Linked DNA regions of Homo sapiens: region 1 is linked to region 2. Evidence: fine-mapped expression QTL. A gene starts in region 2. The other region holds a variant in brackets. All regions are shown on one strand. Distances are between the middles of the regions.

Region 1 (16,331 bases), 44 kb before region 2:
GGATTACAGCTAAGTATTACGTTTTAAAGTAAGTCCTCATGTGTAATCTGCCCCCCTGCCCACCTCCAATTTGATATATAGTTGGGTCAGCTTGTCCCTCCCCTCCCCTATCTCCCCAATTCCTGCTCCCATTTCCCTTTTCTTCTTCCCTTCCCCTCTCCCTCTTTTCTTTTTCTTTCTTTTCTTCTTTTCAGCAGGGTGTCACTCAGTCACCCAGGTAGGATTGCAGTGGCCTGATCATGATTCACTGCAGCCCCGACCTTCTGGGCTCAATCGATTCTCCCACCTCAGCCTCCCAAAGTAGCTGGGACCACAGGTGCATGCCACCATGCCTGGCTAATTGTTTTAACTTCTATTTTATTTTATTTCGAGACGGAGTCTCGCTCTGTCGCCCAGCTGGAGTGCAGTGGCGTGATCTTGGCTCACTGCAACCTCCGCCTCAATTCTTCAAGTGATTCTCTTGCCTTGGCCTCCTGGGCAACTGGAACTACAGGTGCGTGCCACCATGCCCAGCTAATTTTTGCATTTTTAAGAGAGACCATGTTGTCCAGGATGGTCTCTGTCTCCTGACCTCGTGATCCACCTGCCTCAGCCTCCCAAAGTGTCTTGATTACGGATGTGAGCCACTGCACCCAGCTGATTTTTTTTTTTTTTTTTTTTTAGTAGAGACAGTGTCTCCCTGTGTTGACCAGGCTGGTCTTGAACTCCTGGGCTCAAGCACTCCTCCTGGCCTCAGCCTGCCAAAGTGCTGGGATTACAGGCCTGAGCCACTATGCTGGGTCCAGGCCAATTTGTTTCATTTTATTTTTAGTATTTAGAATTTAAAAATATTTGTTTTTATTTTGTTTTATAATCATAGGAAACATTTATATCACTTCAAAGTGAGATACATTCTTACTTCCTCCTTTTGTAAGTAACCAAGTTTTAAAAATCAAACTATTTTTGGTTTATCTTGCTCAAATGTAAACAAATCCATGGGTATTCTTAAATATTCTGGAGATCACTTCATAGCAGGACATAGAGATAGTCTTTATTCATTGTTTTACAGCTGCATTCTACTCCATTACACAGATAGCTGTTTCAAGAGTGGAAGTTTTTAGATAGGAGCATGAAATGTGCATGTCAATTTGCCAGATTTCCTTCTGTAAAGCATTATGCCATCTTATGTTCCTTTCAGCAATATACGAGGTTCCCTCTTTCCCCATTAGCAGACAGTATATATGATGTCTTTTTTGATACATATATGTCTTTTAATCTGATAGGTGAGAAATAGTATTTCACTATGGTTCTAATTTGCATCTTTTCATTTATTTTATAACTGTTTGCTAGTTTATTTTAGAACTGTTTGCATATCTTTTTCTTTGAACTGTTCCACAGATAGATTCTTATTTTCCAGAAAAGTCTACCAACTGTGTCGATCAATCCCCTGAGCCCTTCTATTTCCTCTTGTTCTGTTTGTATAGTCATCCCACAACTTCTAAAAATTAATTTGGTTTAACAACAGGACTCTTCCACAAAGAATAGAATGATGCTGAGCAGTTCTCTTAGGTTTGATTCTTGAGGAACCAGACCCTTGATTATAACCCTTTATTGGAGAGGTGGATCTAGAAAGTTCCTGTGGAGAAGCCAGAAAGGGAAAAGGAGGCTGATACCGACTGCCTGAAAGACTAATTTTTTTGTTCAGTTGGACTCAAATCATGTGGCATCCTCGGGAACAGTGTAGAACATGTCTCTTTTTCCACCTAAGGGGCAAGGAACCTCGGGTAATTTGTCCACTAACCCCCATTCCTTAGTCTGGGAGTTAGGCAGTTAGGCTTTGCGGAGGGCAGGGCAGCAGCTCCTGACCTGCTGTTTGGCCTCAGGGTGCTTTGCAGTAAAAAGCTACCCAGCTGCTTGGGAAAGTTGAGTGATGAGGGAATGTGGGCTGGGCCCTGCTGGCCTCTTCTGCATTGATGAATATTCTGGTCTACTGACAGGTACATTTCTCAGTGTAATTAGTAAATCACCTCTTTTACTCATAAACCACCCTGCTGTATTTTGTTAACATATCTTCTCTCAGAACTTGATTATTCTTAAAAAACTGAAAGAAGTTATGACTTGCCAGACTGAAGACAAGACCCCAAGGAGTTGTGACCCTGCCAACAGGTCGCTGCCGAGAAAGAGTGTGGTACATAGCGAGGAGTCAATGATTATTACCTACTTATAAATGTAGCATCCATAAATTAATTTGTTCTATTTACTGTAGGAAAGTTCATTGTTACTTTCATTTTTAATCTTTTACCATCATGATTAGGAACTGGTATTATTAAATGTGAAGAAAGAAGGACATTGTCGCATGATATTGTGTGAACCATTTTCATTTGGTTGAGAATGTATGCCTCTGGAGAGCTGATTCCCAAATCAACAGTAAGAGGGTTACATTGAACACCTCTTAGTCTCTAGGCTTTTCTTTTCTTTTTTTTTTTTTTAAACAAATGAAGAAAAGCAGAGCACACACAAATTGGAGTTATATTTAACTGATTCCTTGTATCTTTGTCATTAGAGGCTGAAATAACTGAGCCTAAAATGGAAGCTGTGAAAGACTGTAGTATCACGTGAAAGGCAGAGAAAGCTTGGCTTCTTACATGGATTTAATCTTTACACAGGTTGAGCATTGGTTATCCAAAATACTTAGGACCAGAGTATTTCAGATTTCATATTTACTTGGATTTCGGAATATTTGCATATCTATAATGAGATATCTTGGGGATAGGATCCAAGTCTAAACACGAAGTTCATTTATGTTTCATATACTCCTTATATATATATAGCCTGAGGGCAGTTTTATACAGTATTTTAAATAATTTTGTGCATGAACCAGAGTTTTGACTGTGACTTGTCATATGAGATCAAGTGTGGAATCTTCTGCTCATGGCGTTATGTCACTGCTCCAAAAACTGCAGATTTTGGAACATTCTGGATTTTGAATTTTTAGATTGGGGTGCTCAATTTATATTAACTGTGATAGAACTTGTTATGGTGAATTACTATTTTCATTTTAAAACATTTTTCATGTTTCAAATAATTTTGCTGTCCTTTCTATAAATTCTCAGTGTAGGCACTATTCAGGAATAAAATACTAGCTGTCTTACCTCGAGAAACACAGAGTAGTGTGAGAGCAAGGACATATACCCACAATAGAGGGATAGATGTTTAACACGGTAATGTTAAAACAAAAGGTGTCCTATCACTGAATATTATCTGGCTTATTTTTAAGTTTTCCTAATTTTCTTTGGGTGTACTATATTAAATTTGGTCTTACTAGATTTTGACTATTTGGGGTTGGACAGCATGGTCCCATATAGCCATAAAATTGGAAACTGAAGGCCATTTCTTACTTCAATGGTGTATTGAAGCCATTTGAAGACTCCCCGCCCCCCATTCTTTTTTCCTTTCATTCATCCATCCGTCCAGTGGATAAGATTGCATGATTTAAAAAAAAAAAATTTTGCTTGAGACAGAAATTAACATGCTAAAGTTAGTGTGTAAAGGACAGGAACTTCTAGTTTCATACAGGTTCTGTTTGTTTGCTTCTTCAACTTCTGTCCTTTTTCTTAAGCCAGTTAATTTTAGTTATATCTTTTGATTTATTCCTGGTTCATAGAAACAGAAATCCTTCACCATGCCTATTTTCTCTCTTTTTCTATGATTTACTAGCACCTGTAAGGAGAGTTTTTAAAACAAAAAGGTTGGAATGCTAAAGTTCTTAATTCACAACCCTCTATATGTTAGGCCTTCATTTCCTGTCAGATGTTTATTGGGATCATTTTGAGTTTATTACAACCTGATATTTTTTAAAAAAGTGACTTAGAGCCTAAGGGCTTATGATTATAGAACAGATTACATAGAGGTACTTTAAACATGTAAGAGAAAAATGCCAAAAACCATTTTGATTAGTTTAATTTTTTTTTTAAATAAAAAAGTAAGTAAAAATCAACCCCAAAATGGAAGGGTTAGTATAGTTGACCCTTGAACAACACAGGTGTGGACTATGTGGGTTCACTTCTACTTGGTTTTTTTAAAAGTACAGTTGCATCTAGTATGCCTGCCTTTCTGCCTGTCTGTCCTTCCACCTCTTCTACCTCTCCCACCCCTCAGACAGCAAAACCAACTTCTCCTCAGCCTTGTGAAGAGGATGAGGACCTTCAGGATGATTCACTTCCATTTAATGAATGGTAAATATATTTTCCATATGATTTTTTAAATAACCTTTTCTCTAGCTTCTTTTATTGTAAGAATACAACATCTAATAGCTACAACATGTAAGGTGTGTGTGTTTATGTTACTAGTAAGACTTCTGGTCATAACTAGGTTGTTAGTAGTTAGGTTTTTGGGAAGTCGGAAGTTATATGTGGATTTTTGATTGGGTGGGTTGATAAAACCCTAACTCCTGCTTTGTACAAGGGTCAACTGTATATGTTCCGTGATAGAGAGTAGTTATCTTACTTAAATATTGTTATAACCATGTAAAGTTGTTAATATCTGTTTCATTGGTGAGAAAACCATTATTTTTCTTAAAAAAAAATTGTGGGCTCTAATTATAGTAGAGAGATGAAAATTTATTTCAGAAAAGAGACTTCCGTTGCTCCAACCCCATGTCATGTAACAGAGCAGACACTTTCATTACCCCCTGAACATACAGCTTGTGTATGTATGTATGTAAGACAGACTACCCATATTGAGACACCTTGGCCCTTCTTTTCTATTGGCTCCCCTCCCCCACCGTTTCATGTCTGTATTTAGACTTACCCAGTATGGTAACCACTAGAAATACGTAGCTGTTGAACACTTGGACATAAGACTAGTCAGAATTGAGATGTGCTGTAAATGTAAAATGCATGCTGGATTTTGAAGACTTAATTTTTTAAAGTAAAATATCTCAATTTTAAACTATTGATTATAAGAAATAATATTCCAGATACATTGGGTTACATAAAATATTATTATTAGAATAAATTCTGCCTGTTTCTTTTTAACTTTTTCATGTGGCTACTAGATAATTTAAAACTTACGTGTGTGGACTTGGCTAGTGCTAATATCTGGGGAGACTGGAATGACTTTCTGAGGGTTCCTAAAATTAGATATTGGGACTGTGTTACAAAGCTAAGTAAGTTCTCTTGTTTAGTTCTCATTTTACAAATGAAGAACTAATGTTTAGAGAAGTGATTCCATATCATATACTTTGTCATAGTTACAGAACCAAGAATTGAACCATTATCTCATTTGCACTCCAGCATTCTTTTAAATTTTGTGTAACACAGATTGTGTAGAGGTGAATCGTGAGAGTTTTTGGTGGACCTCAGGCACCCATAGAATAATAGGATTGAAAGCACCTTGATGACAGGTCTCTAGATTTTTTCATTACTTTTGAGAGCTAAAGATATTTGTTATTTTGGGAAAATTTTCTTTTATTAAAACAGAATTTTATTGTCATCTATATGTAATCTCTTATTCAGGAAGATCATAGTGTTTGCTATCATTTTCCTATACATCCTATTGTCTTAGAATTTTTTCCCATATTTTTTCAGTCATAAAGTTTTCATTTGAAAACTTTTTTTTATCGTGTCTACTTCTGAGAACTTGTGTTTCCTGTCCCTTCATGGGCATCTTTGAGAATTCTGACACCTGGATCATCTCAGGATTAATATCTGTTATTGTCTTTTCCTTTGAGAATGATCAGATTTTCTTCATCTGTACCATTCCTGGAGAATGTTGTTTTTAAATGAAAGCAAGCAATTAACATTGATAGGCTCAGACTCCCAAGTTCTGTGGCACCCATGGGCAGTGGTTCCAATGTCAGTTCAGTTTTCAAAGTCTTTGCTAAGCTACTATGAGTCTGCTTCCTGATTGAGCCTCTCAGGAGTTAGTATGGAACCTGAAGGTGATTTGTGTCTTCAGTTCTCAAGACCTTTGTAGTGCTTCTTTGGGTATGTTCCACATGCACATCTTGGGATGAATTTGGAACTTGTGTTGGTTCATAGGAAGAATTGCAGGATCCACTTCAGCTCTCTCTTAGGGATTTATTCTTATGCTTTTCAGTTCCTGGAGGCCTCGTTTTTTCTGATTTAGTTTCGATTTTTTGATTGAAAGAAACTGGCTCAATCTAGCTGGTGAAAGTTGGGGGGAACACCAAAAAAGTAGGCCAATTACAGTGTTGAACAAGTGTGCTCAGAAGAATAGTAGAGAGTTATAATTCCACAAATGGAGTAGTGGCTGCTATGGAACAAATCCTCCCACAAATAGTAACTACAATTTCTGGACAACATATGAAAAACAAACATTATGAGGACACCATAGAACAAACCTGTTTCAGAAGTCAGACCGGATTGGATTCTTAAGAGAATGGCATTGGAGTTTCCTGTTATTGACGGATCTTTGCCTGAGGACAGGTTCCCGTTGGCAGAGGAATTAGAGAATTGTTCAGAACTAACATTGCACTGCAGAGTAATGGGGTCCAGCACAGGAAAGGAGGAAATCCAGGAAGAAGATACCCATAGAGGTGGAGTACCAAATGTGGTTTATAAACTCTCCTAAAATATGGGGTTGACCCCCAAACTGGTAACAGTTCAAGTATCTATAAACCAAGAAAAAGGATTATCAAGTTGCTGTATGTGTACAATGGAATACTCCTAAGCAATAGGAAGGAACCAAGGCATCGATGTCTGCAGCAACTTGGATTAATCTCTGAAACATTATGCTGACTGAATTAGTCTTCACAAAACAAGCCATCATATGTGATTCTACATATATCCTAAAACCAGACAGACCTCATCTATTGTGCATGTGGGGTGGGACAGCCAAAACGAAGTTATGAAAGGGAAAGAAGAAGAGGTTGGTAGGTGGTAGGAATGAGTGGTGAGGACAGGGATTAAGTGGGGAAGTGCATATGGCAGCTTTCTAAGGCATTGGCAATGTTCTGTATTCTGTTAGGGATTTACGTTACTCAGGTACATACGTTTGTTAAAACTTACTGAATGATATAGCCAGTATATGTCCGTTGTATTTTGTGTAAGTTTTTTCTTTTCTTTTCTTTTTTCTTTTTTTTTTTTTTTGAGACGGAGTCTCGCCCTGTCTCCCAGGCTGGAGTGCAGTGGGGCAATCTGGGCTCACTGCAGCCTCCGCCTCCTGGGTTCAAATGATTCTCCTGCCTCAGCCTCCCAAGTAGCCGGGATTACAGGTGCCCGCCACCACGCCCAGCTAATTTTTGTATTTTTAGTAGAGATGGGGTTTCATCATGTTGGCCAGGCTGATCTCGAACTCCTGACCTCGTGATCCACCCGCCTCAGCTTCCCAGAGTGCTGGGATTACAGGCGTGAGCCACCATGCTTGGCCAAGTTTTTCCTTTAAAAAAACAAAAACAAAAACAAAAAAAAACCATTACTTGATGGGCAAGTTGCAGTATTTACAGAAGTATACTGATGACTGCAAGTTCTTTGAATAGATGTATTAACAACAAATATGAGGAAATGTTAATTTTAAATTGTAGGTGGTAGCTATGTGGATATTCATTTTTTTTCTATATGTTTGAAAATTTTCATAGTAAAATGTTAAGATAAAATAGAGACCAGTGAATGATATTTCTCGAAGTCAGATTCCTGTTAATATGTTGTTTTTTTATGGCATTCATCAAAATTGATTTCTTTAAATTTGAAAATAGTTTAAAGAGCTTATCGGTAACATTTTTCTGCCTGTGCATTAAGCTGTGACCTGCTTATGATGCAGAAAGATAGAGAAATATGAATAAATAAAAGCAAGAAGACAAAACATACATACTAACTTGATCGTTTCAAAATGATGTAGCAAAGACTAAGGTCATTTCTAATACA[GACAT/T]TTGGAGGGGATGGATACATAATTAGACTGTGCTCAGATTCAAGTATGATTAATGGGAGATGGAATTCATGGAATTGGTAATTTCGAACAGGTTTTTGAAAATGCTATGGGAGGAAATTATTAAGAGTTTGTTTCCACTCTCTTAATTGACCAATAGTCATTTATGGATTATGGCTTAGGACACTTTTTTCAGTGTGTTGTATTTATTTTTCAAAAAAAAATGCTGTATGATTTTTATTGTGGAATTATTAGCGAGATTGGATTGATTAGAATTTATTTTAAAATATCTCTTTGGAGGCCGAGACGGATGGATCACGAGGTCAGGAGATCGAGACCATCCTGGCTAACACGTTGAAACCACGTCTCTACTAAAAGATACAGAAAAAATTAGCCAGATGTGGTGGTGGTCGCCTGTAGTCCCAGCTACTCCAGAGGCTGAGGCAGGAGAATGGCGTGAACCTGGGAGGTGGAGCTTGCAGTGAGCCCAGATGGTGCCACTGCCCGTCAGCCTGGGCAACACAGCAAGACTCCGTCTCATATTCATATATATATATATATATATATATATATAATCTCTATCTTAGAAATTTAGTAATAGTCTGTTAGGGAGTTGTTGGATTAAAAAGCCACTGTGACAGGATTTTATGGTTCTTTCATAAAGTTTTGAGAGACAAGTATAGTTGTATTAAAATTCAGTGCTGTAACATCTAGTGTTACGCATAACTGTTACAAATACCAGTTCATTTTCTGGCCTCTCTTAATTTGCTGTTAGGAAAGTTAATCTGATAGTTATTCTGATAGGCTCAATTTTTAAATATATGTATCAGATTAAATTGTGAGTGGGGATGAGAGAAAAGTAAATATTAGTATCAAAATATAATTTGTAATTACAAGATATAAGATTTTTAAATTTATTTCATTTTTCTCTCTGGTATTTTTTTTTGAAGTACCTCAATTTTAAATTCATTTTAGAACATAACATGAAATTACTTGATGTTATAAGGGTTTGATATTTTTCTAGCAACCAAAAATTTGGACTTCTTTTTTGGTCTTTTGTCTTTTTATCACTCCAAATATACTGCAATAATTTTTTTGTTTAAATCACCATTTGTATATATTATAACTTTCTCAAAGTAAAAGTGCTATGTTGTGCGTAGCTCTAGCCATTTTGTTGTAAGAATTCTATATTACTGATACCTAAAAAAGGCATTTTGGTCTTAGAGAAAATTGTGTTGTATGCTGACTTTGGAGATGGTAGAATTGCAAGTGTGTGTTCATGCCTTCCAGATAGAAATTTAGTGGTGAACAATCAAGGGGGTTTCACACTGTGTACCAGCTAGTTATTTAAACATCAAATTCTCCTTAACTTCTAATTTTAGTACCAGTGTCTTCCTAGAGGAGAATATTTTACCCAAACAGAAACAATAGTTCAGTTAGACTTAAATTTTATATTGTATATTATATATACAATACTGTAATTATACTGACTAAAGACAATACTATTAATTGTATCTTATAATTAGTAGTTGTATTTTCATTATTAAATATCTTTTTTTTTTTTTTTTTGAAGTCAGGGTCTTGCCTTATCTAGTCAGGCTGGAGTGCATGCAGCGCAGTCACGGCATACTGCAGCCTCAGAGACCTCCTGGTTTCAAGTGGTCCTCCCACCCCACCCTCCTGAGTAGTTAGGACTACAGGCATGCACTAATATTTAAAACTCTTTGTAGAGATTAGGTCTTGTTATGTTGCCCAGGCTGGTGTAGAACTCCTGGGCTCAAATGATTCTTCTCTCTCAGCCTCCCAGAGTGCTGGTATTAAAGGTGTGAGCCACCACAACCCACCTGTTATTAAATATCTGAATGTTTAAGTCTCTGAAAAAAATGATGGACAAGGTAAGATAGATGGATAAAATTGCTGAAAACAGCTCATGATCAAAATAGAACCCTAAAGAGTTATCTGTATATCCATGTGATTTCTGTTATTTGCCATCATAATACCAGAATCAAAATGAAAAATAAATTTCATGTAAATGAAAGTTTTGTTTCAAAGATTTCTATCACAGAGACACATTGATATTACATCCATCTTAAGACTGGCCAAGAACAAGAGAGAAATCTTATTAATGATTCTGAATGTCGTATTAGGAGATACTATGTATTGCCAAGGTGAAATGTTCAAATGACTAAGTAGTGGACTTGCATGTGTGTCAAGTTATTTTATAATCACTTTAGGTAATTTGCATTTAAGAAAAACTTTTAAAAACAAGCTTTTTCCATATGAATGTTTCATCATATCTTTACATCCTTTAAAAGTTGATTTCTAAGATTTTCTTGATTGTAGAGATACGTTTACTGGTTCTCATATCCTTGAAGTGTTAAGTCTGCCAGGTAAGAACCTTAGCATCAACATAAGCAATGAAGTATAAAGGAACAAATAAATATAAAGTAGAACATCAGCTGATCTTTGAACTTAAAGCTAGTTGTTAAGTTTGTCAGACCCTGGAGGATTTGCTAGAACCAGGCAGTTAATTGTATTTAGGTAATTTAGTTAGAAAACCACAGTTTTTGAGGTACCAGGACCTATTGTTACTGATAGATGTTTGATTTCTTTCAGTATAGAAAACTTAAACATGGAGACACTCTTTTAAAAAAATGTTTCTGTGTGTCACTGAAAAAAAATATATATTTTTTCTTTCAGTTAGCTTTATTGTCAGAAGGAGAAGCCAGATTTCTATTTTGAGAGAACCAGAAAAAAGTATTATGAGTAGGGAAAATATGCTCATTAACACAGAAGGATATCACAAGCATACTTATTGTTTTATTGCATGTTAAATTTAAATAGTTTAATTTACTCTAATCATTTTTCTTGTCATTTTATTCTTTGTTCAGTTATTTCATCAGGGGCAGTTATGGGCACTTTATCACTTAAAGTAAGTACTAGCCCAAAGGTGTACTATTTTCTAGATTTACTTGGGCAGTCTGGCCAAAGGTGAATAGGTCTTTTCGGGCCATAATTTGGGTTACTCATTACTAATTCAGCTTAGATGTTAATGATAAAGCCTGATAATGTTACTAAGGCTGATATATTCTAAAAACCTTTCTAGCAGTTAAAAGTTAGAAAGCAATTGCTTTTTGCAATTTAAAATTTTGTGTATGTCCTTTTTATTGAGGACATAATTATGTCCTTATGAAAATTATTTTCAACCTTGTTCCCTACTGCTGTTTCCAGTGTTAACAGTTAAACCTTACTGTTAACAGAAATCTTACATTTGATTGATTCTTCCTAAATTCATCTTTAGGATCACTCAGTGTTAAAGCTAGAGGAGCCCTTTCAGATTATCTAATTCAGTACCCTCATTTTACAGATGAGGAAACTGAGGCCTTGGACTAGAACAGAGGTCTCCTGACTCAGTCCAGGACTCTTTCTATTACATCATGCGGCCTGATATTTGTCTTTATGGAACTCAGCAACATCACATACAGGGTGAGCTTTTTTTTTTTTTTTTAAATGAACACATAAAGTGATTTGCTACCCTCATTAGTTACTAGTCCTCATTCTTGTCTAACTCTTATTTTCCTTTTCTACCCATATTTATTTTAATTGATTATATAGACCCAATTACTTGTGACACTTTTTTATTTTACTGCTACCTCTTCTTGACGTTTGACTATTATTTTTAAGAGTTAAACTTTCAGAGGATTTCTTACCAATGATGACTGCCACTTTATCACGCACTGTAGCAACAGTCGATTAAAATTTATAACAGGAATTATTTGTAGAGTGTTACATTTAGATTAAAAAAATTACAAATAAGTCCAAGAGTGTGGATAAGATCTAAGCAGCTATAATACTAGATACAAATTTTTTTTTTTTTTTTTAAATGGAGTCTTGCTCTGTCGCCCAGGCTGGAGTGCAGTGTCGTGATCTTGGCTCACTGCAAGCTCCACCTCCCGAGTTCACGACATTCTCCTGCTTCAGCCTCCCGAGTAGCTGGGACTACAGGCGCCTGCCACCACGCCCAACTAATTTTTTGTATTTTTTTAGTGGAGACGGGGTTTCACCGTGTTAGCCAGGATGGTCTTGATCTCCTGACCTCGGGATCCACCCACCTCGGCCTTCCAAAGTGCTGGGATTACAGGTGTGAGCCACCGCACCCGGCCGACATTTTTTTTGTGAAATACCGACATCCCAAGAAATAATCAGCCAACAGTGTGATGTAACTGCCATTAAAATAGCCTATGCTACGAATGCATGGATTTACACAGATTTATGTTTTAGGTTATTGCATTGTTTTCTGTATCGGTACTCAAATTGGCTTCTGTGTCCTTTTGAGAAGTCCCTAGCAGTTTTTTTTTTCTTTTGAGACGGAGTCTCACTCCGTTGCCCAGGCTGGAGTGCAGTGGTGCAATCTCAGCTCACTGCAAGCTCTGCCTCCCGGGTTCACGCGATTCTCCTGCCTCAGCCTCCCGAGTAGCTGGGACTACAGGCGCCCGCCACCATGCTCGGCTAATTTTTTGTATTTTTTTTGTAGTAGAGACGGGGTTTCACCGTGTTAGCCAGGATGGTCTCAATCTCCTGACCTCGTGATCTGTCCGCCTTGGCCTCCCAAAGGTTTGGGATTACAGACGTGAGCCACCGCACCCAGCCGATATTGTTTTATTTTAATCAAGGCAAAACTGTATGTAAATACTGCTTGAATTATACTTTATTTTTTTTTTTTTGAGATGGGGGTCTCACTCTTTCGCCCCAGCTGGAGTGCAGTGGTGGTATAATCATAGCTCACTACAGCCTCAAACTCCTGGGCCCAAGTGATCCTCCCACCTCAGCCTCCCAAGTAGCTGGGACTACAGGTTCATGCCACCATACCTGGCTAATTAAAACCAAAATTTTTTTTTTTTTGTAGATCCTGGGTCTCCCTATGTTGCCCAGGGCTCAAGTGATCCTCCCGCCTCTGCCCCCCAAAGTGATGGAATGACAAGTGTGAACCATGCACTCAGCCGAATTATATTTTATATGCTGGAGCATGAGAGCTATGTTTTATTATTTATGAAAGTTTAAAAATATATTTGAATAATGTTTTAGGTGCCTTATAAGATACAGGCTGCTGATTTGTTTTGTTAAAACAGGCAAAAGATTTATTCATTCTGAAGAGAAACCAGATCATGACAGACTGCTTTTTAAATGCTTATAATTTGGTAGTGGTTGAAAAAATATGCATATTAAAAGGTGACATCATAATAATGTTAACACTTAGTGGGTTATAAATGGCTTTTCCATGCATTCCCACCTGTGAGGTGTATAGATTAGGTTTTATTCTCTTTCACAGTTGAAGAAACTGGGGCTCCGGGAAGTTAAAATGACTTGATGTAATGCCTTAATGTCAAAAGCCAGTAGCATCAAAAAGAAAATGTCAACGTTCTGACTTCTGGTCAATAATCTTTTTACTGTTGTCCAGTTTTGAGAAGAGCAATAAAACTGCACTTAGGGGTACAGGAGGAAAGTAGCCAGACATCTTTAATGTTGATATTTGAATAGGTATCATAAAGAGATAATATTTGAAGAAGAATAGACAAATTTCAACAAGTGCAGTTGAAACAGAACTAAAAGCAGAAAAGTGGAAATTTGTGGGACATGTTAGAATGATACCAGCATACTCACTTGAAGAGTAAAGTGCATATAAAGGTGGTACCATATGGCTAGATAGGTACTTTGGAACCATAGAATGGAGAACTTAGGAGACTCTTAGGCTGTCGTAATAATACAGGTGATAGGTACTGTAGAAAGAGAGACGTGGCTGTAAGAGGTGTTGGATACATTTTAGAACGTGTAGATTTTTAAAGCTTCATTTGTATTATGTGAATATAAGTTATTTTCCCTTTTCCTCAAGGACTCCATCTCACCAAAAGCCCCTCATTTTCAGGTGAGATCTAAAGTAAATAAGTATTTTTCCCTTCTGAAAATTTTCTTTTATGATGGATTTAACATAGTTTCTTACCTGCTCTATATTTATAAAAAGTTTCAAGTTAATAATACTAATAAAACTATTATTATAAGACTACCAAAAGCAGTTTAAAATTTCTTTGTGGTTCTTTTTAGTTCTTAGATTATATTCCCTAGAGATGTATGCAGCGAAAGTACTGTTGTAAGGTGTGTTAGTGTTCTTTGTTAGTAGACAGTTTTACTGGTTTACAATACTAAAATGTTCTTTCTCATTCATTTTGTATGTAGATAAGGTGGGTTGACTGTGGCTCTCTTCCAGTTGTCTGCTCATTTGGATAGCCAAGCTGTTGAAGTAGACCCCATATAGGACATGCTCGTTGAGCAAGAGAGCTGGCAGACACTTGTAATGTCTCTTAAATCTTGTGATTGGATATAGTGTGTATCACATCATCTGGAATTCCACTGGCCAAATTAGGTCACATAGCCAAGGTCCAAGTTGCTGGGATGGGGATGAATAACTCTATTTCAGGAAAAAAGAATGCTTAAATTCTGAACCAGTAATACATTCAACCTCTACAGCCACTTAAATTGATTCTTCCCATGTGTTGATGCCATCATAGTTACCATTATTAGGGTTAGTTTTGTTTTTTGTTTTAAGGGGATTCTCTGATAACCAAGGTGGACAGATGACTGAAGGTAAGAAGAAAAGGCTTTTGTTACCCTTGTCTGTACCTGTCTTCTACAGCATGGAAGGGGCAAATGATGGAATCTGTATTTGTCTTCCCAGGCTTTCTCAGCTTAGTGTGACTGTTATAGATTGAATTGTATCCTCCTAAATTCGTAAGTTGGAGTCCTAACCTCCAGTACCTCAGAATGTAATCTTACTTGGAAATAGGGTCCTTATAGAGATACTTAAGTTAAAATGGGATCATTTAGGTAGATCGTAATACCTTATGATTGGAGTCCTTATAAAAAAGAGAAAATTTGGGCACATACAGAGGGAGAACAGTGTGAAGACACAGGGAGAACATGGCAAAGTGACTAGAGTGATGTGTCTACAAGCCAAGCTCTATGGTCCGAATTTGTCCCTCCAAAATTTATGTTGAAACCTGATCTCCATTGCAGTGGTATTAAGAGGTGGCTTTTTTGGAAGTGCTTAAGACATAAGGGCTTTGCCCTCAGTGAATAGAATTGTGACCTTATAAAAGAAGTTGAAGGGAACCCCCAGGCTCCTTAAACAGTATGAGGAGGACATGGCCAGAAGGCACCATTTATGAAGCAGAGAGCCTTCACTAGGCACTGTATCTGCTGGCACCTTGATCTTGGGCTTCACAGCCTCCAGAACTGTGAGAAAAAACTTCCGTCTAAGGTATTTTTTGTTGTATTTTGTTTTTTTGTTTTTTTTCCGGTAGCCCCAAATGGACTAAGACACCAAGGAAGCTAGGAGAGAGGCCTGGAACAGACCCCTCCTTAGCACACCTTCAGAGGGAATGCGGCCCTGTGAACACCTTGATTTTGGACTTCTATAAGACAATAAATTTCTGTTGTTCTAAGCCTCTTAGTTTATGGTACTTTATTGTCACGCTAATTTAGAACTTTGCTAGAAAGCACCTTTAAATAGAAGTTTGGCAGCCAAGGCAGGAAGAAATTAGCTTGAGGCTAGCTTATTTTTTAACCTTTATTGTGTAATGAGTAGTCTAACTGCTAAGTAGATGGCAGGAGGAGAGGGGTCTGTCTATTTAGATTGGGAAACATACCTTCAAATCTGTTACTTTTTCAGCCTGAAAAAGTGAAATATACTTGAGTTAGTTCTTTCTAAGATGGAAATCTGTATTGAACCACACTATACTGATTAGTAGGGAAGTTTTGAAAGCTAGAAGATATTATGAATTGTGTCCCCACAAAGATATGTTGAGGTGCCAACTCCCAGTACCTGTGAATGTGACTTATTTGGAATGGAAATAAGATCTTTGTAAATCAAGTTAAGATGACGTTATTGGCATGGGCCCTATTCCAGTATGACTGGTGTTTTTATAAAAAGAGGGAAATTTGGACACAGACAACACACAAAGAGGAGAATGCCACGTAAAGACTCAGACACAAAGCAAGGTGGCCATGTGAAAATGGAGGCAGAGACTAATTTTGCCGCTACAAGCCAAGGAATGCCGGGTGCTACCGAAGCTGGAAGATGGATAGAACGACTCTCTTTTCCGTTGGAGGGATCGTGGCACTGCCAACACAGTTCACTTCAGGCTTCTAGCCATAGAACTATGAGACAATTAGTTTCTGTTGTAATTTTAAGTGGCCCAGTTTGTTGTAGCTATCACAGTAGCGCTGGGAAACTGATGCAGAAGGACATGTGGATTTTGAGAGTACTTTGTGGTCTTTGGGGCTGTTGTCTTACATCATTACATTTTGTACAGATTACCAGAATGGATAAACCACAAATTCCTAAACCGTGTTGTGCATGGTGTTCACCTTCACATGTTTCAGAAATATTAAGGTACTTAATATTACTCAAG
Region 2 (11,720 bases):
TTACAAACAGCGAGCCAGTGGCACAGCATCAACTTTAAAATGGAAATTTGCAACTTCAGGCATTTTGCTTTTTTTTCATTCTCTGTTTAGTGTGCCTAAACAAGCCAAAATAAGGTGCAAAATGATTTTTCTGTAGTATCTGAATAAGTTTGCAAACATCGTTAAACAATTCAACTTGATTAAAGCTCACCACTTAATAAGCATTTACACATACATTTTTGTTCACCTGTTGTGCTTCCTTTTCATCTTTGCTTCTAGTTTTCAGAATTCTCTCAGGCTTCTTGGCTGTTAATCATACTAATTTCTCGTACATCCTAGGAGTAATGTAAAGTTGAAGTAAGTATGTTTATGGTACTATTGCTAGGTACCATATGATTAGTACCAACTCTGTGTTGGAGATGGTGCTCTTTCTGTCCCCTTTAGTCCTGACTACAACCTGATGAGGTACATAGTATCAAAGTATTTTTACGAATAAATAAGCTTCAGTTTACCCATCGTATTCTTTCTTACCATACTTTTGTTTTTAAGACAATTTTATTGAGGTACAGTTGACATAAAATGAACTGTATGTATTTTACTTGAACCATTTGATATATTTTGACATATGTATACACCATTGAAACTATTACCGCACTCAGGATAATGAATACATCTGTTACCTTCAGACGTTTCTTCTTGCCCCTTAGTGATATCTCTCTCCCATCCCCAGAGATTAGATTACATTGTATGATTGGGATCATACAGTATATACTCTTTTTTGGTCTGTCTTCATTCTGCATAATTTTTAATTCCTGCAATATACAAAATATATCTTATTCAACTGTTATCAGTAAGTCTTCTAATCAGCAGCTGGCTATTAGTTGGTAAGATTTTGGGGAGTCAAAAGCTATGTGCAGATTTCCAACTGCACAGGGGGTTGGTGCTCCTAACCCTCACATTGTTCAAAGATTAACCATATCATATGTTCAAAAAGCTAAGTAGAGACACAGAAGATATGTTATTAAACTTCTAGAGATGAAGTTATGTTATTAAACAACATGTGAGATGAAAAGTGCACTGGTTAGGATAAACCACAGATTCGATGCTGCGGGAAGAAATGATTTATGACCTTGGAGGCAGCATAGAATCTATCCAAAAACGCAGAGAACATAGACTGGAAAAGAGGGTGTGGTGACAGAGCATCAGTGAGTTGTGATAAAACTTTGGGCAGACTAATACCTACATAGTTAGAATCTTAGGTAAAAAGGTAGGGGAGGGAAGAGGGGCAGAAAATAAGATTATTTAGCCCATTTAAAATTATCACCTCAAGGTAGATGGTGACAAGTTAAAGGTGTGCACTATAAATCCAAAAACACTACTAAAAATAATTACAGTTAAGAACCCATCAAAGGAGAAGAAAATGTAATCATAAAAAATATCCAATTAATCCAAATGAAGGTAGAAATACAAAAAGGGGAAAGAACAGAAGAGATAAACAGAAGTACAGTAAATTTAAATGTAACCATATGACAAAGCAAAATAAGTGTAAATGGCCTAAATATTAAAAGGCAGAGATTGTGAGACTGAATCAACAAGCAAGACTCAACTATATACTGCCTATGTAAAATATACTTCAAATACAAAAATATCAATAGGCTGAAAATAAAATGATGTAAAAATAAATACCATGCTATCACTAATCAAGTGTACATTTATACATTTCAAGTGTATAAGTATGCATTTCAGCAAGAGACAGCTGAAATGGCTACATTAATATAAGACAAACTAGATTTCAAAGCTCAGAAGATTTACAGGGAAAAAGGAGGTTATTAATACAAGATAAACAGTCAATTCAACAAAACATTTTAAAATGATAATGCATTTAATAACACTGTTTCAAAACATATGAAGCAAAAACTGATGGAACTTCAAAGGAAATAGAAATTATTGTGCTTCCAATTGTTGAAGACTTTAGTATTCTTCTCTCAATAATTGATGGACTGAGAAGATGGGAAGAGGGAAGTAAGGCTATAAACGATTTGAAGATTATCCGATAACTTGACCTAAATGACATTTATAGCAACAATGGAATTAAATTAGAAATCAGTATTAGAAAGCTCTCTGGAAGAGCCCAAGTACTCAGGAACCCACACTTCTAAATAACTCATGGGCCAAAGGAGAAATCAAAATTAAGTTAGAAAGTTTTATATTTGACTAGAGATTTTATAAGTTAATAATATACTGAAATCCATTGAATTGTATGCTTTAAACAGGTGAATTGGTATGTGAATTATATGTCAATAAAGGCTTTTTTTTTTAAAAATAAAGTCAGTAATAAATGCATCCTTCTTCGCTCATAGGTTCATTCCTTCTCTTTTAAAATTATGGAGGCTACATGGGTTAATGAAAGTAAATCAGAAGAGGGGTGGAGCAGACAAAAATGTTAACTTTAGCTCCAAGATTTTAAGAAATTATTTAACTGGGAAAATTAAGTTTTCATAGCCTCTTATGTGTAAAATGAGATGGGTATTAGTGAACACACTTCTCTCACTTGTCAGGTACATAAAATTTTTTTTTATGTTAGATATTTCTTTCTAAAGAACTTGTACTATCAAGACTCATTTTAAGAGTAAATATAAAATAAGGAGGTATGTGTTCTTTGATTACATCAATCTATAAGCACTGTATTTTATGAGGCAGGCATATCACAAAAGCGTTAATCACACAACCTACGTTGCAACATTTCCTACATCCCAACAATCTTGATTTGGTTATGTAGTTTGGTTTTGTTTTTCTTTTATGAACCTAATAGCGTGTTTGTTTTAATGCTACTTTTTGTTTATTTTAGCCTCCTCTCTAACATTTTGCAGGCTGCCCTGTATAAAATTAACACCTCTGGAACATCCTGACATATATTTGGCCTTGTGAATAACACTTTAATGTATCTTTAACTGTCTTCTAATTGGATTTTTCAGGCCTCCCTTCCCCATTTTTTTGCACTTGTTAACAATAGAAAGATTACTAACCAAAAAAATTAAAATTTTTAGAATTGTATTTTAAGTGATAATACTTAATGTCAAAATGAAAGTGCACAGTCAAAATGAAAGTGCACAGTAGTTACTGAATTAGGTTCCATGGAGGAAAACGACGTGTAAACTAGACACTCCAATAAAGGGAATTTAATACAAAGAAATATTTGCAGAGGTGTTGGGAAGAGTGAAAAACTAAGGAATAGGAGGTAACCAAGAGACTAATTGAAGGAAGTCTAAGACTCTAGAGGAGAAGGCAGGACCTGATTGTCCAGTGGGGACTGGGTTGTAGAGGATAGGCTGCCTGGCAATGCTCGACACCCAGCCTGAAATGATGGCAGTCGTGCTTGTCTTCTTACTACTCCTAACTTTGGACTCCTCACTTTGAACTCCTGACAGTGTCTTACATTGTATGAACCCATCTGGAAACCACTAGGCACAGGAACCCGGGACATAACTTACAATAGCCCTCCTGGGTTGCACATCCTAGCAGGGCAGAGTGCAGTAAGGAACGAATGAGAGTTGACTGCCAAATGAACAGGACAGTCATCCACATTGCTGTCAGAAATGGTGATACACACAAGTAGAGGCAGAGTTCACACATCATGCGGATAAAGTTGGCACATATTTTTGTTTACTAGTTGATTTAGGTTGGGTTTCTCCAAAAGGCAGGCCCTGTGCCAAACATTTGAGTGAAGTGACTTATTGTGGAAAACCTCTTAGGAGAAATAAGTGAAGAAATATGGGAAGCAGGATGGGGGGGAGGGAAGAAGCCAAGGAAGGAAGTGATTCTGGTGAAGAAAGGCCCAGTCTCAGCCTGGTGCAGAGGGGAGCTTGCACCTCAAAGTTTTTCTTACATTGAACCAAGGGTGCTAGGTCTTTAGATCTCTCCTCCCTCCCTCCTTCCCAAAAACATACACAACACCAGCTTGGATACAGAGCAGCAGAGCAAGGCAGTTCTGTGAAGTTTGTCCCTGGCAGCCCTTAGCAGTGAAGCACTCAGCTGGGAATTGGACACAGCACAGGCAAAAAGGCTTATGGGCAGGAAGAGCAAACACCAGCTAAAGCAGTGCTGCTTCATGACTAGAATAAAAATACAGCCTGCAACTTACTCAGCCTGACAACTCTGAGGTGTGATTTTTGACTATGTTTACTTTGTTGGGAATTCTCATAATTTGAAATTTTGTATAAAAGGTGAATTTATGTTAATAATTTTATATGGCACTTTGTTAAAAGGTTGATTGAGGGAGGATTAAATATTTTAAAAATATAGTTATTTGAAATTTCATGTAACCTCCATAGTAAGTTCCCATTAAATCTTTTCTTTCCAGTCTGTTTCCTTTATGAGCTTACTCTATCCAAGTGGTGTCCTGATACCTAGTTTTTCATTGTAGAAATATACCCAAAACTAATTATTTTAATGTCTGGTCATATTACTACAATTCGCTTCTTTGTTCTTTAGTACTTAGTACTTTTAGATTTGGGGCTTACCTGATTTGTCTTTAGCCAGGCAGTGAAATCAATTTCACTCTTTCCTGTTGTACTTTATCTTTTAAAAAAAAAAAATCTCAGTATAGTTCTGATTAAAATTTCCTTTCTGAGTCCTAAATGCTTTAAATCTTCTTTTCCCATTCTTTTTACTTCTCCTATCCATAGTTACAAGTTCTTACGCATGACATATCTCTTGGCTGATAAGTTTAACTGCTTAAGCACCTGTTTATGTTTCATTTTTAACATAGCCAGTTACTATTATGCTTGGATATACACAATGAGGGAGTTTGTGGCTTTGTTTTCCCTTTCCACAGACGTCTCTAATCTCCTTTATTAAATGCTTTGTATTTCTACTAATTAGTATACATAGCTAAACTTTTTGTTTTTGTTTTTTGAGACATAGTAGTCTTACTCTGTTGCCCAGACTGGAGTGCAGTGGTGCAATCACGGCTCACTGCAGCCTCGGCCTCCCCAGCTCAAGCAGTCCTCCTGCCTCAGCCTTCCAAGTAGCTGGGACTATAGGCATGGACCACTACACCTGGCTAATTTTTTATTTTTTAGAAATGAGGTCCCACTGTCTTGCCCAGGCTGGTCTCAAACACCTGGGCTCAAACAGTTCTCCTGCCTTTGCTACCAAAGCGCTGAGTCACACCTGGCCACACAGCTCAACTTTAACTCTCCTGTTTTTCCCCTTTAAGTTTTTTCTTTAAATTAGGGTTGACAAACTTTCACTAAAGGACTTGAAAGTATTTTAGACATTGTAGGCCATAAGATCTCAGTTGCCACTAATCAGCTCTGCCCTTGTAGTGAAAAAGCAGCCATAGGTAATATGCAACTTCATGCATTTGTCTGGGTTTCAATAAAACTCTTATTTATGGACACTGAACTTTAAATCTCATTTTTCCACATTTGTATGTCTTCCTTTGATCCCCTCCTCCCCCATTGCACTATAAAAGCCATTCTTGGCTTATGTGCCATAGTTTGTCAACCCCTGCTTTAAATGCAGTCTTTGATATGCTTCTGTTGCCTAACCCAGTTACTCACTATTATTACCATAATCTGTGTTGCTAATTACGGAGATCTTTTGCACCTTGCAGCAGGAGACAAGGATGTTCAATAATTTCAGAGCTAAACTCAAAGTATTAAATGCCAGCCTGCTTTGGGGCTTCAGAGATTTTTAAATTCATTGATTTTAAGGGGCATTTGATTTTAAGAGGTGTTTGACAAGAACAGATTTTAAGAGGTATTTGGCAAAAGTTGCTTAGAAGAAAATTATTTGCAAATCATATGCCGTATTCCATTTGTTAGTTGAGTAGATGATAATGGGAATGATACTTATTCAGCATAACATTTGTCTAACTCTTGTAATTGACAGAGTACTTCCACACACATGATCTCACCTGGTCTTCACCATGTGTACTAAGGATAAAGATAGTACAAGTTTAGTATCCCTTATCTAAGTGTTTGGGACCAGGATTGTGTTGCATTTTTTATTTTTATTTTTTTTCTGATTTCGGAATATTTGCATATACATAAGGCAATATCATGGGGATGGGACCCAAGTCTGAACATGAAATTAATTTATGTTTTACATATACCTTATAATATAGCCAGATGGCATCATTATACAGTATTTTTACTAGTTTTGTGCATGAAGTAAAGTTTGTATTAAGCATTTAATGTGTGGAATTTTCCACTTGTGGCATCATATTAGCATTCAAAAAGTTGCAGATTTTGGAGCATTGTGGATTTTGGATTTTCAGATTGGGGTGCTCAACTTGTGTGTTATCCTCACTCTTGTGTGTGAGGGTAACACTTGCATGTTACCCTTATCTAAAGAGGATATATCATAGAGGTTAAGTGACTTGCTTGTGTCCACTAATTATGCAGTGACAGAACCGAGGCTTCTTGTCCATTGAACACTCACAGATTTTAGAAATGAAAAGCATGATATCATCACATTTAATTTTATCATTTTATAAAAGAGAACCCAAGACCCACAGAGCCAGCTCTCAGGAACCTTCATCTCCCAGTTACTAGGCCAGTGTACTTTCTCTTAGGGTCTGTCTCACCTAGAAATAACTAAATTGAAATTTGTTAATATTGTTGTATATAGATACTTTTATTTTAATTTTTTCTTAATATCTTAAAAAGTATAAAGTAAAATGTTTAAGTGCCTGTTAGTATATTTTATTAGTCAACAATGGTTCAAAGCTAAAACTCTTGGATTTTAGTACATGTGGAATAAAAGCAAATCTAACCTTTGTTCCTTTGCAGCACCAGCATTGGATGTTGATTGGCAGAGCAACAACACCTTTGCTTCTTGTAGTACAGATATGTGCATTCATGTCTGTAAATTAGGACAAGACAGACCTATTAAAACATTCCAAGGACATACGGTAAGAAACCTTTTTTCCACATTAAAGTGGTCATGATTAACAAGTAATGTTTCAGAATAGTTTTAAAGTATGTATGTTTAATATTCAAGTAGCTACCCAGTCTATACAATGAAAATGTGAATATTTACTATTATTTTTAGAATGAAGTAAATGCTATCAAATGGGACCCAACTGGCAATCTCTTGGCCTCCTGTTCTGACGACATGACTTTAAAGGTAATTTGCTTAGTAGGGAGAAATGGGTTGGCGGTGTCACACAGTATGGTTGCTCTGGCCATTTTAAGACCATTTAGAATGTCTGTCTTACATGGAGTGTTTGTACCTGCATGAAAACTCCAACATTTTAAATGGCTAACCATTGTTTTTTAAATTTTATAGTTTCTTTTCTGAAATACATAAAACTATTTGAATGTAGCAAATTATATTAAAATGATGGCTTGTGATACAATGAGACATATGATACCCTATTAGTTAGGGCTCTCCAGAGAAACAGAACCAATAAGAAGATGGATGGATGGATGGATGGATGGATGGATGGATGAGAGATTTACTGTGAGAAATTGACTCACGTGATTATAGAGGCTGAGAAGTCCCACAGTCTGCTGTCTACAAGCTGGAGACCCATGAAAGATGGAGGTGTGGTTCCATTCCAGGGCCAGAGAAGGAGTGCCAATGGTGTAAGTCCCAGTCCAAGAGCAGAAGACCAATATACCAACTCAGCAGTCAGGCTGAGGCAGAGAATTCTTGCTTCCTTGGCGGTTTTGTTCTGTTTAGAGCCTCACTGGACTGAGTGATGCCCCCCCCGCCGCCCATTGGGGAGGGTGGCAGTCTGCTTTTCTCAGTCAGCTAAGTTAAATGCCTGTCTCAACTGGGAACACCCTCAGACACAGCCGGAAATAATGTCTCACCAAATATCTGTACCCTGTGACTCAGTCAAGAAGACAGATAAAATTAGACATCACCAATAGTAAGAAAGGTCATGCTATAAATTGTCTTCACCATTAGAAAGTCATATGTTGAGGCAATTAAAGTTTATTTGCAATTAAAGTTTATTTGCATATGTAAAGATTTGACTTAATAAGTACTCAAAATCTTTGTAGCATTCATGGATTTGATTGGAATTCTTTGCGTTGTATTAATTTGATTTTGCTGTGGTATGACTATGTATCACCATTGCTGGGAAACTGATACATAGCAGAGAATCTCTCAGTGAGCGAGCCTAGTTGACATACCAACATCCACATCTCAACATGGATCTCTGTTTTTCTTGTTGTATGACTAAAAGCAAAACTGCTGTCTCGCACCTAAGCACACCAGATTCCTCATTTGGGGAAAAAAGCATTTGGAGATAAAGAACAACGTAATACTTATTTCCAAAATAAATGAAGCTTTGAGCCCTCTCCTGCAACAGCTAACCCTCTACTGAAAACAGTTTTATCCTTGACTTTGCAGTACCAAGGACTGCAGATGTGATGACCGTTACAGATATGAAAATCATGAGGGAAAACTGATTTTCCTGCTACTATGAACAGATTAAATTTAACTTTGCGAAACTTGTGAGGTTTTCTCCTTTAAGTATCTGCTATGTTTTTAGACAGTTCTTCTTAAGTCTGGGCTCCCTTACAAAATTGCTAGTATTAATACTCTTCTTAATGCTTTCATCTTTGGCTTTTCCTTATGTGCACACGTATTAATGCTTATAACATGAAAAAAACTTCTTCTGGAACTGTGTGTGACACATATGAGGAAATGACAGAAGGGCAGTGTCCAGAGGGCCTTGTGCCACATATTGAGTTGAAGCTGGAGAGAGGTTAAAACTAGAAATTGTTAGAGAGCTTTTCTTCATCCTAAGAATGTTTAAATGTCACAAAGGATTTTAAAGCAAAAACTAGGATGGATGGATAATGTGTAATGGGCCGTTTTCTGAGAAGAGGGAATGCCAGATGGAATGAGAAGGTGACGCTGAGTCATGCGAATGGAGGAGATAGGTGGGACTGATGCTTAGAGAACTGTAAGCTCAAGATTAAAAACTGGGAATTCTCAGCAGATAGGTGGTCTTTAAAATCCTTGGGCATGGCCAGGCCTGGTGGTTCACTGTTGGGGTTCAATCAGGCTGGTGGGAAAAATATTAGAGATAGTTATAGAAATAGACACATATCTTCTTGGAAAACTGAGAAGTAACTTCAGTAATAGATCTGGCTGAACGCGGCCTGGTTCCTTTACCTTTAGTTAAACAAATTAAACTAGTAATAAAGGAAGGCAGGGTAGTTTACCTAGCTAGCTTGTTTACTCATATAATATTAAGACTAACCTTTGATGTGCCATGGGTGCTTAAGTGCTTTTTACTTGGGAAGTCCACAATGTCAGTTACCCTCTAATGGTGTTGACTCAAGCCTTTGTGAATTAATCTTACTGAATAAATTTGAGTCTCACTAGCGGATAGGGCCATGGTCGCAACTGTTTACAGAACTCTCCAGGGAGTCTGTAAATGGCTCGGACACCCTCAGCTGGACTGGCGAAACAGGATATCTGTGTGTTAGTGTACTTTATTCATCCATTGCTGGGTCAGGGTCTGCAGGCAGACACCCACAGCTAGTGCCCCCATGTTGCCACAGCTCATGCCTATAATTAAAGCACTTTGGGAGGCCGACGTGGGCAGTTCACTTGAGGTCAGGAGTTCAAGACCAGGCTGGTCAACATGGTGAAACCCCATCTCTGCTAAATATACCAAATTTAGCCGAGCGTGGCGGCAGGTGCCTATAATCCCAGCTACTCTGGAGGCTGAGGCAGGAGAATTGCGTGAACCCGGGGGACGGAGTTGCAGTGAGCCAAGATTGTGGTGCTGCACTCCAGCCTGGGCAAGAGAGTGAGACTTCATCTCCAAAAAAAAAAAAAAAAAATTGGGGCAGGGACAAAACTGTGTAGGTAGTACAGAGTAAGAAAAGAGGGGACCTAAAAAAGTGAGTCTTAGAAACTCTAACAATCACCAAATCAAGAGGGATGAGCTTTCCAAAGGAAACTGAGAAGGTGACTGAGAAAGTGGAAAAAGAAAGTATGTAGAGGAAACTTATTTCAAGGGAGGTAAGAGTTGAGAGTGGCCAACAGTATCAAATTCTATGAATTAGAAAGGTCTAATGAAATCAGTTCTGAAAACATGTCGTTCAGATTTATTTTACTTGGGGTTGTAAATACATAGGGCACCAAAAACACTCTGATGCTTCATTATCTTTTAATGGTTATGTCACGGAAATGTAAAGTTGAGCTGATTTTTTTCTTGGTTGGCCCTCCTTGGGTTTGGCATGTTGTATGTGTATGTGTTAAGGAGATAACTGCAGGACCTACCATGTCTTTATTGAGTGATTTTTTTTTTCCCAGAAATACTCTTCGTGTTGATTTCTATGAATTTTTGCTCAAAAATAATAGTCACTTGAAATCTATACACACAGGCATATTTTCATCTCAGGAAAGGCTTATTCTCTACTTTGACTACTTTTTTCTACTTTTTTTTTTTCCTACTTTTCATTTGAGCTTTATTTCCTATGCTACTTTTTACGGTTCTCTGTGAGTCCTCATTATTTATAAGTTGGTTATTTATTTTCAGTTCTCCATTGTAAAATTTTCCTGATTCTAAAATTCTAAGAGCAGTTTATTATGTAGATCTTTTGCTTAAGGGACAGTGTAAAAACTGTGCCTTCAACATTTTAGGATCGTTAACTAATCTCAGAACAACTATAGTTAATTCAGTCTTCAAACTTTGTAATAGTGAATATTTTTAAAGGGCTTAAAGCTAACTTTTTTTTTTAAACAGAGATGTAAATATTAAATATATCCTATTGCATTTCAGTTTCTTTGTAAATATTCTATCATCATTCTGGTTATATCACTCATGTTTTAGACTGTCCATATAATATTTTAAGTGTCAAAATAATATTTTAAATATACTCATTGTATGGAAAAATAATTGTATACATTTTTCTTTTTTGTTTAGATATGGAGTATGAAACAAGACAATTGTGTCCATGATTTGCAAGCACATAATAAAGAAATTTATACTATCAAATGGAGTCCAACAGGACCAGGGACTAATAATCCAAATGCCAACCTTATGTTAGCAAGGTGATACTTCTGTTTCATTTTTCCTTTTATGAGTCTTCTACAAATCAGACTTCCAATAGATATGACAGAAGTTTAGGGAAGATTTCATGAAGTGGAAACTTTTTTTTTTTTTTTTCCAATTTCAGTAGTTTTTGGTGTATAGGTGGTTTTTGGCTACAAGAATAAATTCTTTAGTGCTGATTTCTGTGCACTGGTTTTGCAAGCAGTGTAGTGTACCCAGTGTGTAGTCTTTTATTCCTCACCTCTCTTCTCAGCCTTCTCCCCACTCCCACCTCCAGTCCACAAAGTTCATTATATCATTCTTATACCTTTGTGTCCTCATAGCTTAGCTCCCACTTACAAGTCAGAACATGATATTTGGTTTTCCATTCCCGAGTTATTTCACTTAGCATGATGGCCTCCAGCTCTATCCAAGTCACTGCAAAGGACAATATTTTATTTCTTTTTATGGCTAAGTAGTATTCCATGGTGTATGTATACCACATTTTCTTTATCCACTTGTTAGCTGATGGGCACTTACGTCGGTTCCTTAAGGGGAATCTTTAAACACTGAGTTTTATTATTGTTTCAAGTTATAATGATATTCTATATTGAAATAATCAAATATTGACTGATACCAAATACTGATTAAAATCCAAGCAATTGAGGCATAGCAAAATCTTCAGTATCTTTAGAAAAAAAAAAGATAAATGGAAAAATGTGGTCAC

Evidence for each region. PIP is the estimated chance that this variant, and not a neighbour inherited with it, causes the effect. A credible set is the group of variants that fine-mapping cannot tell apart.
Region 1: its variant is the best candidate, but not a certain one, in a credible set for the expression of TBL1XR1-AS1 in tibial nerve (GTEx, PIP 0.52).

Annotation. Positions count from the first base shown.
Region 1 is chr3:177,074,848-177,091,178 of GRCh38, reverse strand. The region is part of intron 2 of TBL1XR1 (TBL1X/Y related 1); the gene reads left to right. Among named protein-coding and RNA genes, the nearest start is that of TBL1XR1-AS1, 46 kb to the right of the region's middle. The variant GACAT/T (reference allele first, on the strand shown) is at 7,866.
Region 2 is chr3:177,033,491-177,045,210 of GRCh38, reverse strand. It overlaps TBL1XR1-AS1 (TBL1XR1 antisense RNA 1), which reads right to left and starts at 7,806. Exons shown (of 4, transcript NR_174966.1): 1 at 7,467-7,806; 2 at 6,761-6,849; 3 at 227-314. It overlaps TBL1XR1 (TBL1X/Y related 1), which reads left to right. Exons shown (of 16, transcript NM_024665.7): 11 at 6,777-6,898; 12 at 7,039-7,113; 13 at 10,886-11,013. RefSeq lists a silencer at 3,341-3,585 and enhancers at 4,996-5,290, 6,632-7,831.